Regions from separate parts of the Homo sapiens genome. Here regions 2 and 3 are each reported to be linked to region 1. Evidence: microRNA targets listed by miRTarBase, many of them from high-throughput screens and not tested one by one. Region 1 holds a microRNA gene; each other region holds the end of a gene's coding sequence.

Region 1 (3,152 bases):
TGCCTCAGCCTCCTGAGTAGCTGGGACTACAGGTGCCCGCCACCACACCCGGCTAATTTTTTTGTATTTTTAGTAGAGACGGGGTTTCACCGTGTTAGCCAGGATGGTCTTGATTTTTCGACTTCATGATCCGCCTGCCTCGGCCTCCCAAAGTGCTGGGATTACAGGCGTGAGCCACCATGCCCGGCCAAGCACTTCCTTGAACACAGAGGTGACCATGAGGAGGGAGGCGTGAACCAGGATGACGGGGCAGCAGATGGAGCCTGCCTCCCTGAGACCTCAGGTGACCGAGTGCTGGACTGCCTCCTCCTGCCTACATGGCTGAGAAATAAACTTCTTTTTCAAACCACTGTGACCTGGGGTTTTCTGATACCCTCAGCAAGCCTGTTCCTGTGGCCTGGTGTGGGTCCCCTGACCTGTGGCCTGGGCTGCCTGTATCCGGCCTGCCCCTCTGCTCCGCTGTAAACCTGTGATGGCAGTGGAGGGGCTTGGCCTGGGCCCGCCCCACCGCGAGGTCTTCCCCTCTCCGAGTTCTGGGTGTGGTTTCAGTTGAGCCACGCCGTTGGACTGGGCCGGCCTGGAGGACAGAAGGCACAGGCTCTTCCACATACCTGGCTCGTGGCCCATGGGCCGTCTGCTCACGGGAGCCCTGCACCAGGCCATGCAGAGCAGTGAAGTCAAAACCTCGTTTCCCAGGTCTAAGGTGAACTGGGAGCAGGGCAGGAGTTGGCTCTGTCAGATGCCACAGTTGTTTGGGGACAGTGTCCGTAGAGAATGTGTGGCCCCCCTCCGTGGTCTAGGGTGGAGCGTGGATAGGCCGGTCACTCCTATCCCTGGGCCCAAGGCTCTTTTCCCCTGCCCTCCCGTGGGCTGGGAACTGCCACAGCTCAGACAAAAATCGGCCAGGGCAGGGTCCTGAGGCTTCAGTCCCAGGCTCCTTAGGGCACCCCTGGTGACCCAGCTCCAGCACTGAGTTTCCAGAGGCCTTGAGGATTTCCCTGGGATGCCAGATGGGCCCTTCCTGCTGCTCCTGGGGTCATCTAAGCTCCAGGCTTGGGTGCAGCCCTGGGCCCCTGCCACAGACGCCCTGAATGCACCTGCCCCTCCCGGTCCCCACGCAGCAGCCTCCTGAGCTGCGGATCATTTTCCTAAGAAGGCATTCTACTTGTGCCAGTCCTTACTTAAAGACCCCTGCTGGTGCTGGCAGCGTGCTACCGGGAAGGATGGTATCTCCTGTGCGTGTCCTGTGTACGCTGGCCTCACACGTGTGTGCCTCATGCGGGCTGTGCCCTCAGTCCTATACGCTCTCCCCAACCCTCTTTTAGGGTGTCACAGGAGAAAAATGACACATTCCTAAATCTCTAACACATGGGCTTGAAAACAAGTCTGAGGATGCCCTGCAGAAGGGCCATGGGCATGGACATGGAGCTGGGTGGCCTCGTGCACTGACCTTTCCCTCTTCCTAGCCCCAGGCCCGACCTAGAGGCCACAGCCCCTGCGGACAGGCTGTGGGGCCAGAAGGGCCCACTTCAGAACTTTTCTCGTGGGCAGTGTTTAGGCCACAGCCACCCATGTGTAGGGGTGGCTACACATGGGTGGCTGTGGCCTAAACACTGCCCAAACACGTTATATTTTTTATAACATGGAACTAGATGGCAGAAGTTTAAAGGGAATAAAAGAGCTACTGGAGACGATTTGCAGCTTTCATAAATTTCCAGAGACTGATAAAAACACAGACTTGAAATTGTCCCAAATGAGCCAAAGTGATGAAAACAAGTCTTTTCTAAAACTCTGAATTCTAAGGGAATGTAAAATGCAGAAGTTCAAATCGGGTTTAGAAAACCATAAGAAATAATAGTGCATTCGCCGGGCATGGTGGCTCACGCCTGTGATCCCAGCACTTTGGGAGGCCAAGGCAGGTGGATCACTTGAGGTCAGGGGTTTGGCAGCAGCCTGGCCAACATGAGACCTCGTCTATACTAAAAATAAAATTTAGCCATGCATGGTGGCGCATGCCCTTAGTCCCAGCCACTCCGGAGGCTGGGGTGGGAGGATTGCATGAGCCCAGGTGTTTGAGGCTGCAGTGAGCTGTGATACCACCACTGCACTCCACGCTGGGCAGCAGAGCAAGATCCTGTCTCCAAAAGACAAAACACAAAACAGTGCATAAAAAGGGGCCAGGCACGGTGGCTTATGGCTGTAATCCCAGTACTTTGGGAGTCTGAGGTGGGTGGATCACTTCAGGTCAGGAGTTCGAGACCAGGCTGACCAAGATGGTGAAACCCCGTCTCTACTAAAAACACAAAAATTAGCTGGGTGTGGTGGCGCGTGCCTGTTGTCCCAGCTACTCGGGAGGCAGAGGCAGGAGAATGGCTTGAACCCGGGAGGCAGAAGTTGCAGTGAGCCAAGATTGCGCCACTGCACTCCAGCCTGGGCAACAAAGCAAGACTCCATAAATAACTAAAAAGGGAGCTGATGAGGAGTTATTTCTGGGAAATGGCAAATGCCCACGGGTGACCCTGATGCCAGCAGCTTCTCTCCCACCAGACCTGTGCTTCCCACACAGCCCCACCTGCTCTTGTCTTTAGACTAAGAGCCTGTCACCGGGCGTTGATCTAGCCGGCTTTTTCCTTTGTGTTATGGGCCTGTTCCTTCACCTCAGTGTATTCTCTGCGTGTGCTCCCTTCTGGGAAAAGCAACGTCCCACGTTTGTGTGATTGAAATGTGAAAGGAGAGCCTCATGTCTAGATTGTGGGCGAGTGATTGAGCCCTGTGACCGCTCGCGCGTGTGACCCACAGACTGTGACTGTGTCCCCTCAGCATTTATTTTCTGGATGGTCACAACGTATTCAATGTGTCCTTGAGACAGCCACCCAGCCCTTAGGGTGGTCCCTGCGTGTCCTGGGGCGGGCGACTTCCTGAGGGTGCAGTGCTGGAAACAGAGACTGCTTCGAGCCTGGCCACCTTCCCTCCTGTGCCGGCTGCTTCTAGGAGATGCTGTGGGACGGTGCCCGGCTTCGCGGTGACTACCATGCCCTAAGGAGCAGAGCCTCCAGGATGCCCCCGGGCTGCGCTGGACGCTAAGACCCCAGCACCTAATCACAGTCAGCAGCTTCCCTCCACTGACAGTGATCTGCATGGTCCATTCCTGG
Region 2 (3,147 bases), not on the chromosome of region 1:
GAACCTGTCTCATCTACAAAATGGGCATAGTAGCACCTATGTCATAGGGTTGCTTTATGGCAGGTAATTATTCTTGTAAAGCATTTAGCACAGCTCTGATGACACATGGGGAATGCTCAGTAAATATTAATGTCACTAATTCCAGTCAATTCCATTAACTGGAATTAATTAGTTGGAGTTAGGAAGGAAACAGGTGTCAGCTGGGTCGACTGAAGGAAGCAGAGATCTCAGGAAGCAGTACATGGTGGTACAGTGGGAGCATGGCATCTGTGGGGGAGACTGTCTGCAGTGGGATCCCACCTCTATTGCTGGCCAGCTGTGATCTTGTACAGGATACTTAACCCCTTTCTAGCTCAGTTTCTTTAGCTGTAAAGCCAGCGCAATGTTACCATGGAGCTGGTATGTGAAAGCAATGCATGTTAAGTGTGTAGTATGTGCCTGATACATTGTTAGTGCCCAGTAAATGTTAGTTATCAGGTGAGGGGTGGGATGTGGGGTTGAGTAGATTTGCCTCGTCCACTCATAGAGGCAGGATGTGCAAGGAGGGGTGGAGACATGCAGCAAGGGATTGGGCATGAAGGTTTTCTCCAGGCCCGGGGAGAACACTCGGCCTGGAGATATTCAGGAGTCCCTGGCCCAGAGGAGATTACAACTCTGCAGGGATATGAGCCACGAGTGGAGTGTAGACATAGGCCTAAGGAAGCAATCAGACACTTCCAGAATAGAGGACATTTGCTAAGACAGCTGGCCTGGATGCTTCAAAAAGTATCATGGGAAAATATGTTGGGGTTGTTGTAGACTGAAAGTGACTAGAGTTGAAACCAAAAGAATGTATGAACCTTGATGGGACCTGGTTGTTGTCGTTGTTTTTAAAGACAAACATTCTGGAGACAATTGTTGAATACTGATTAAGGGCTCTGTATTAGAGGCTATAAAGAAGTTACTGTTTATATTTTTAGGCATGATCATCTTAATGTAATCATGTAGAACGGTGTCTTTGTGCTCAGGAAATCTATGTGGTAATACTCAGGGGTCGAAATGTCATTCTATGTACACATGCATGGGGTGGAGAGAATAGTAAATCTGGCAAAATGTTAACAACTATTCAATCCAAGTGGAGAGTATGTATCTGAGTATTCATTGTGCTAGCCTTTCAACTTTTTCTGGATGTGTGGAATTTTTCAATATAAAAAAATAAGAAAAAAAAGAGGCCTATGGAAAAACTGGGAACCAGTATGCAACAGGAAAAGGAATTCTTTGAAGGAAAAACAGGATCCACCTACCAAGAGAGCAATTTCAAGGGAGAGATTAAGCAAAATGAAGGCTGCAAATAGATCATCATATTTGGTCACTGGGAGATTGTGGCAGCTTGGAAATAGTCTGGTGAAGCATAGAAAACTGACATGCACCCTAGAACTTAAAGTATTATATATACATATATATATATATATATATATGTATATGTATATATGTATATATATATGTATATATGTATATATATATGTATATATGTATATATATATGTATATATGTATATATATATATAATATATACACACATAAAGAAAAAAAGAAAAGAAAACTGACCCAGAGTGAGGGAGTAAAAACTGGGGAGGAAGGATAGGCAGCCAGGACTTGTTGGCCCTTCTGGGTTAAGTCTTTCTTTTCAGTAAGAAAGGGAGACTGCACATTGCTGAGGAAGAAGAGCCTGGGGGAAAGGGAGGGACTGAGACAGCGAAAGGGGGAATACTACAGGAGGAAAGACCCAGTAAACGTGGGAGAGGAATGGGATGGAAAATGACAGGTAGATGTGGCCTTAAGCGGAGGGATGCTTTCCCCTTCAGCCCAGAGGTGAGCACTATGACGACATGTGGGGAAGAAGCCCTCTTCCTAGTGACAAGGGGATGAGGTGATGTCTTGCTAAGGTGGCAGATGTGAGGCCTGAAAGTGGACATATGTGCCACACTTGTCATTAGGTCTGAAGCAAGGGAAGGATGGCCGAGGGGAGACAGAGTGCACCTGGTATTGGTTGAATAATATGGGCAGTAAAAAAGCGGGCTCTGGGACTGCCCCGATGAGGGCTAGAGATGATGCGGGTCTACAGCAGTCATGGAAACTAGAGGGGACGTCCCTCACCCACCCTTCAGAACTTGGTGTTGGGCAGATTATGCATTAGGAACTCTTTTTTTTTTTTTTTTGGGTAAAAAGCTTTCTCATTTCCACGCACCCTCCACCTTGGGCTGCTGGGTGTATAGGCACATGGTGTGATAAGTCTTTGGTATGGAATGAAGCTCTATCCTTTCAAAGTCACCAGGTTCGGGTTCCCAGCCCTAAGTGGCCATGGCACTGGGTGGTCTGGGTTCACGGGGCTCCTGGAGCTCTCGGGTGTCCCGTGTGCCACCCCAATTCCTTGCGTGCATGCCCACGAAAGGCCGCCCAGGCACCCCCGGTGACCCCATGGAAGTGAGTTTTGGTTCTGCTCTGGCTTCGAAGTGCTTCTCAAGCTGAAGCCTTAGGGTGTGGAAGATCCTACAGTTAGCTGGAGCTTCCGAGTGAGTAGCGGCTGCGGGCCTGGCTTCGGTTACGGCTTCGGTCCCAGCGGGGTCTGAAGGCATTGGCATTGGACGGAGAAGCGCTGTCCTGGGGTGGGGAAGTGGCCACACCCCTACAGGAGGACCTTTGTGATGACGCAGCCGTCCCTGTCACCCTCGGGGTCGTCCTTGAGCGGCGGCGGCGCAGCGGGGGCCCAGCCCAGGGCGCCCTCACGGCGGCTCACATCCCGCAGCCGCGCCTGCAGCGCCTCCCGCTCGGCCTGCAGTTCCCGGCGCGCCTGGGCCGCGGCGCGCTCTTCCTCCTGCAGCGCCCTCCGCCTCCGCTCCAGGGCGCGCTCGCCCTGCTCCACGGCCAGCTCGCGCCGCTCCAGCTCCCGCTCCCGCCGGCTGCCGCGCACGGCCAGCGCGCCCATCTGTTCCAGCAGGCGCGCCCAGTCGCCCTCGGGGGCCGCAGCGGGGCCGGGCGGCGGCGGGCAGGGCGCGGCAGGTGGGGAGCTCCCGGCGCCGCTGCTCTCCAGCTCCCGCCGGTGCGCGCTCCTCAGGTGCCTCCACAACGCCGAGGTCCCCGCGTGGAAGCCCGGGCCGCGGCCCACCTG
Region 3 (3,152 bases), not on the chromosome of region 1:
ACAACCCCGGATTCTAGAATTAGTCATCTTGTAAACAAAGGAGGGAAGGGTCCGGCTTTCTTAATTGGTTTCCTTGGGAAAAATGATCAAAGGATGCTAAGGCACTCTGGAAGGCCCCTCTGAGCCCGGGCCGCCGCCCCCGCCCCACGGTACATTCAGGACGTGGAGGGAGCACACAGCAGGTCCGCTCAGCAGCCACGCACGTCCACAGACACTCCCGACTCACGCCCACCGTGGGACACATTAGTGCAAAATGCTCGGCCTGGCCCGCCCGGGGCGCAGGGAGAGCTCAGAACCCATTCACATTAAATTATTATTATTTAAGTTTTATCTATAGCTCTTGCCTTCCTTACCCAGAACAAAACAGACGGCGATTACAAACGAGTGAGGAAGGGGCACGGGACATTGTGCGGGCCTGAACAGCAGTCAGGCGTCCTCTGTGCAGCCACCACCTCCGGCAGCAGCCAGCGGCTCCCTCCCTGTCCTGGCCAAGGGTGGGGGGGCACCCACTTTGGAGTGGAGGGCAGAGAGAGCCCTTCTGTCAGCAGCCAGGCCCCCAGGGATGGTCAAATTAAAGTGCAAATTTGGGTGTGGGGCAGATGAAGGAAACTCCAGAGGGAACTCAAGTGCAGCTCAACCTCACCTACCTGCCCCTGCTCCACCCCGCGGCTTCCTCCCATCTCCGAGGAAGGCTTGGTCCAGGTTCCCAGCGGGCCCCATGGGGGCTCCAACCCCACCTGTGCCCAAGACAGGGGAGGAAGAGGCAGAGAAAGGCTCCCTCTAGGCTGGGTGGTTCTTAGTTCAGCAGAAGGTCTGGATGCCTCTGCACCACTGAGCCACCTGCAGCCCTAGGAATGCAGGTCTTGGTCCCCCTGGACGTGGGCCCTGAGGAATGGGTGGAGGGGCCGAGGTTAGCGTCCACAGTGCCTGCCCATGGTCCCCCACCTCCTTCTGGAAAGCAACGTATTTTTCTGGAGGGCAGGCATGTGCTGGGCCTGGCTGGAGGCAGCCCAGGAGGCTGAGTGCTGTCTGTAGAGGCGGCCCCACGGGAGGTCTCCTAGGGCCTCGCCACAGGGGTGGGCTTCGGGGCAGAAAGGAGCCGCCCAGTGGGAATGCGTCTAACCCACACCCTGTAGGTCCCCAGGCCAGGGTGCAGCACATGGTCCTCCCCTAGCGGAGGCGGCCTCCGCTTGATGGGTTGTGGAGGTTGGGGGAGTGGGGTGCGCTGGTCGGCCACCGCTCACTGGCCTGTGTGCACACCGGAGGGGGTGCTGATGGGCGCAGGGCTGCACTTGTTTTGCAAGTGAAGATGGGGAAGCCGAGTTCTGGAGGGACAGAGGTGAGCAACAGACATTTCAAGTCTTGGGATGGGGGGTTCTTCTGGCCACACCTGGGAAGGAGGGCTGCCCCTGGACAAGGACACAGGCCTCCAAAACAAAAGGGAGGGACACCTGGGTAGGTGGCCACACCAGCACTTCACACAGGACTTCACACAGTCTGTGAGCCCTACCACTTAAAAAACAGTAATTAAATTTCAAAGGAAGCACTCCAGCCTCAAACCAAACAGCCCCATCTTCCATGGGCCCTTCCTCCACTGTCCCTGGCCCCCCAACATGATCCCTAACCCTCTGTCCCCTACCAGTGCCCATACCTCCAACTGCCCCAGCCCAGGCCTGTCCCGGTCATCCCCTGCCTGCAGCCTCAGGCACCCTCCATCCATGCACACCCCTCAAGGCAGACGGGGAGCCCAGCACCGGGAGGACCGACTCTCGCCCTGGCCCAGCCCTGGCCGCTGCCTCCTGCCCGAGCGGAGTCCCCCGCTCCCCAGGTCCGGCCCTGAGCTCAGCTTCACACGTACTAGTCGCCCACCCGGGACCCCCTTTTTCCCCCAGTGGGAGACGAGTGGTCCCTGGCCCTGGGCGGGGGAGCAGGGGGACGCACCCTAACGGCCACAGATGACCCACCCCAAGCCATGGTGGGCTGGGGACAGGGACACCCATCCCACCCAAAGTTTTTGTTCTATTGAGTCTGAAAGTTTCCAAACCATATATGAAATAGATCTAAATTACAACAAAACCTAAAAAAAACAAGACAAGCATAATCCCAAAGTGGCTGAGGCGGCAGAGGGCAGCGTGTGCTACATCAGCTGTGCACGTCCCACAGTGGGCCCGGGCGGGACAGTGGGAGGCCAGGCGGGGTCAGCGGTGCCCTGGGGGTCAGGGGACCGAGGGGCTGCAGAGCCGAGACGGATCGGGCAGAACAAGGACAGGGTGTGGGGGCAGAGTAAAGTACCCTTTTCTCCACCCCGAGGGGTGGGCCACAGCCATCACTGCCCCCTCACCACACCCCTGCACACACACGCACACACACACACTCGTGCACACACCCCACACAGGTGGAAGGCCCGGTGGGCCTGGCCCCGAGTCTCCGAAAGAAGGAAAAACGAGGAGTTAGGCCCTGGAGCCTGAGCCCTGCCCCGTCGCCCCAGAGAGGTTCCATGGGGAAGGAAGGAAGGGTCAGTGACGCACAGCCCAGCCCCCTCGCCACAGACCACCGCCGGCCCCTGCTTCGTCTTCCGGGCAGGAGGAGCAGGAAGGGCAGGGAGGAAGGGGCAGGGCTGGGCACCAGGGGCCTGGCGGCCTCCCACCCTCCCCAAGAAGGGGGAGGGAAGCTACACTTGGAGGCTGACCTTGTGAATATCAAAAGGGAGCCCTGGGAACTTCCTCGCAGGAGGCTGCCAGTGGCCTAATTGTTTACAGTATAATGAATGCATTTGTTTCCTTCATCAATTTTAAATACAAGCAGAATAAAAATCACATTTTTCTCAGGCAACAGTAGCAGTTCAGTAGGTAAGTGGCTTGATCACATTTGTTTGTATTAGTAACGCATGCAAGCAGCTCTAGTACTCGGTCCCTCGCGCAGCCACCCAGCTCCGCTTACAAGGTCCCTGCATAGGTGCCCTCCGGCCTCCGGGCCGCGGCCGCCGGCGTCTGGGGCCTGCTGGGGCCGCCCCCGCCCTGCTCAAAGGGCTGTGGGGGGCTCTGGCCATCGGCGGGCAGCGGCTCGGGGGCGGCCACCTCCTGGATGACCGAGCCAGCCCCGTCCACCTCCTCGCCGGCGTCGAAGGCGGGGTTGGCGGCGGCACTCAGGTC

The links. Region 1 holds the annotated microRNA hsa-miR-4717-3p (ACACAUGGGUGGCUGUGGCCU, at 1,588-1,608, shown strand). A microRNA usually pairs through its seed, bases 2 to 8, with sites in the 3' UTR of a target mRNA and lowers its output. Matches are read on the target gene's strand: a 7mer-m8 pairs with bases 2 to 8, a 7mer-A1 pairs with bases 2 to 7 and ends in A, and an 8mer does both.
Region 2: the mRNA of ZBED3 is a reported target of hsa-miR-4717-3p. Seed matches in the 3' UTR shown: 7mer-m8 at 2,256-2,262 and 7mer-m8 at 103-109.
Region 3: the mRNA of NACC2 is a reported target of hsa-miR-4717-3p. Seed matches in the 3' UTR shown: 7mer-m8 at 1,157-1,163.

Annotation. Positions count from the first base shown.
Region 1 is chr16:2,273,074-2,276,225 of GRCh38, forward strand. It overlaps MIR4717 (microRNA 4717), which reads left to right and starts at 1,547; the gene lies at 1,547-1,618. ABCA3 (ATP binding cassette subfamily A member 3) reads right to left here. Exons shown (of 33, transcript NM_001089.3): 33 at 2,808-3,152.
Region 2 is chr5:77,074,510-77,077,656 of GRCh38, forward strand. It overlaps ZBED3 (zinc finger BED-type containing 3), which reads right to left. Exons shown (of 3, transcript NM_032367.4): 3 at 1-3,147. The coding sequence ends at 2,665. Among named protein-coding and RNA genes, the nearest start is that of SNORA47, 4.5 kb to the right of the region's middle. RefSeq lists a silencer at 2,929-3,147.
Region 3 is chr9:136,008,580-136,011,731 of GRCh38, forward strand. NACC2 (NACC family member 2) reads right to left here. Exons shown (of 6, transcript NM_144653.5): 6 at 1-3,152. The coding sequence ends at 2,937. Among named protein-coding and RNA genes, the nearest start is that of UBAC1, 49 kb to the left of the region's middle.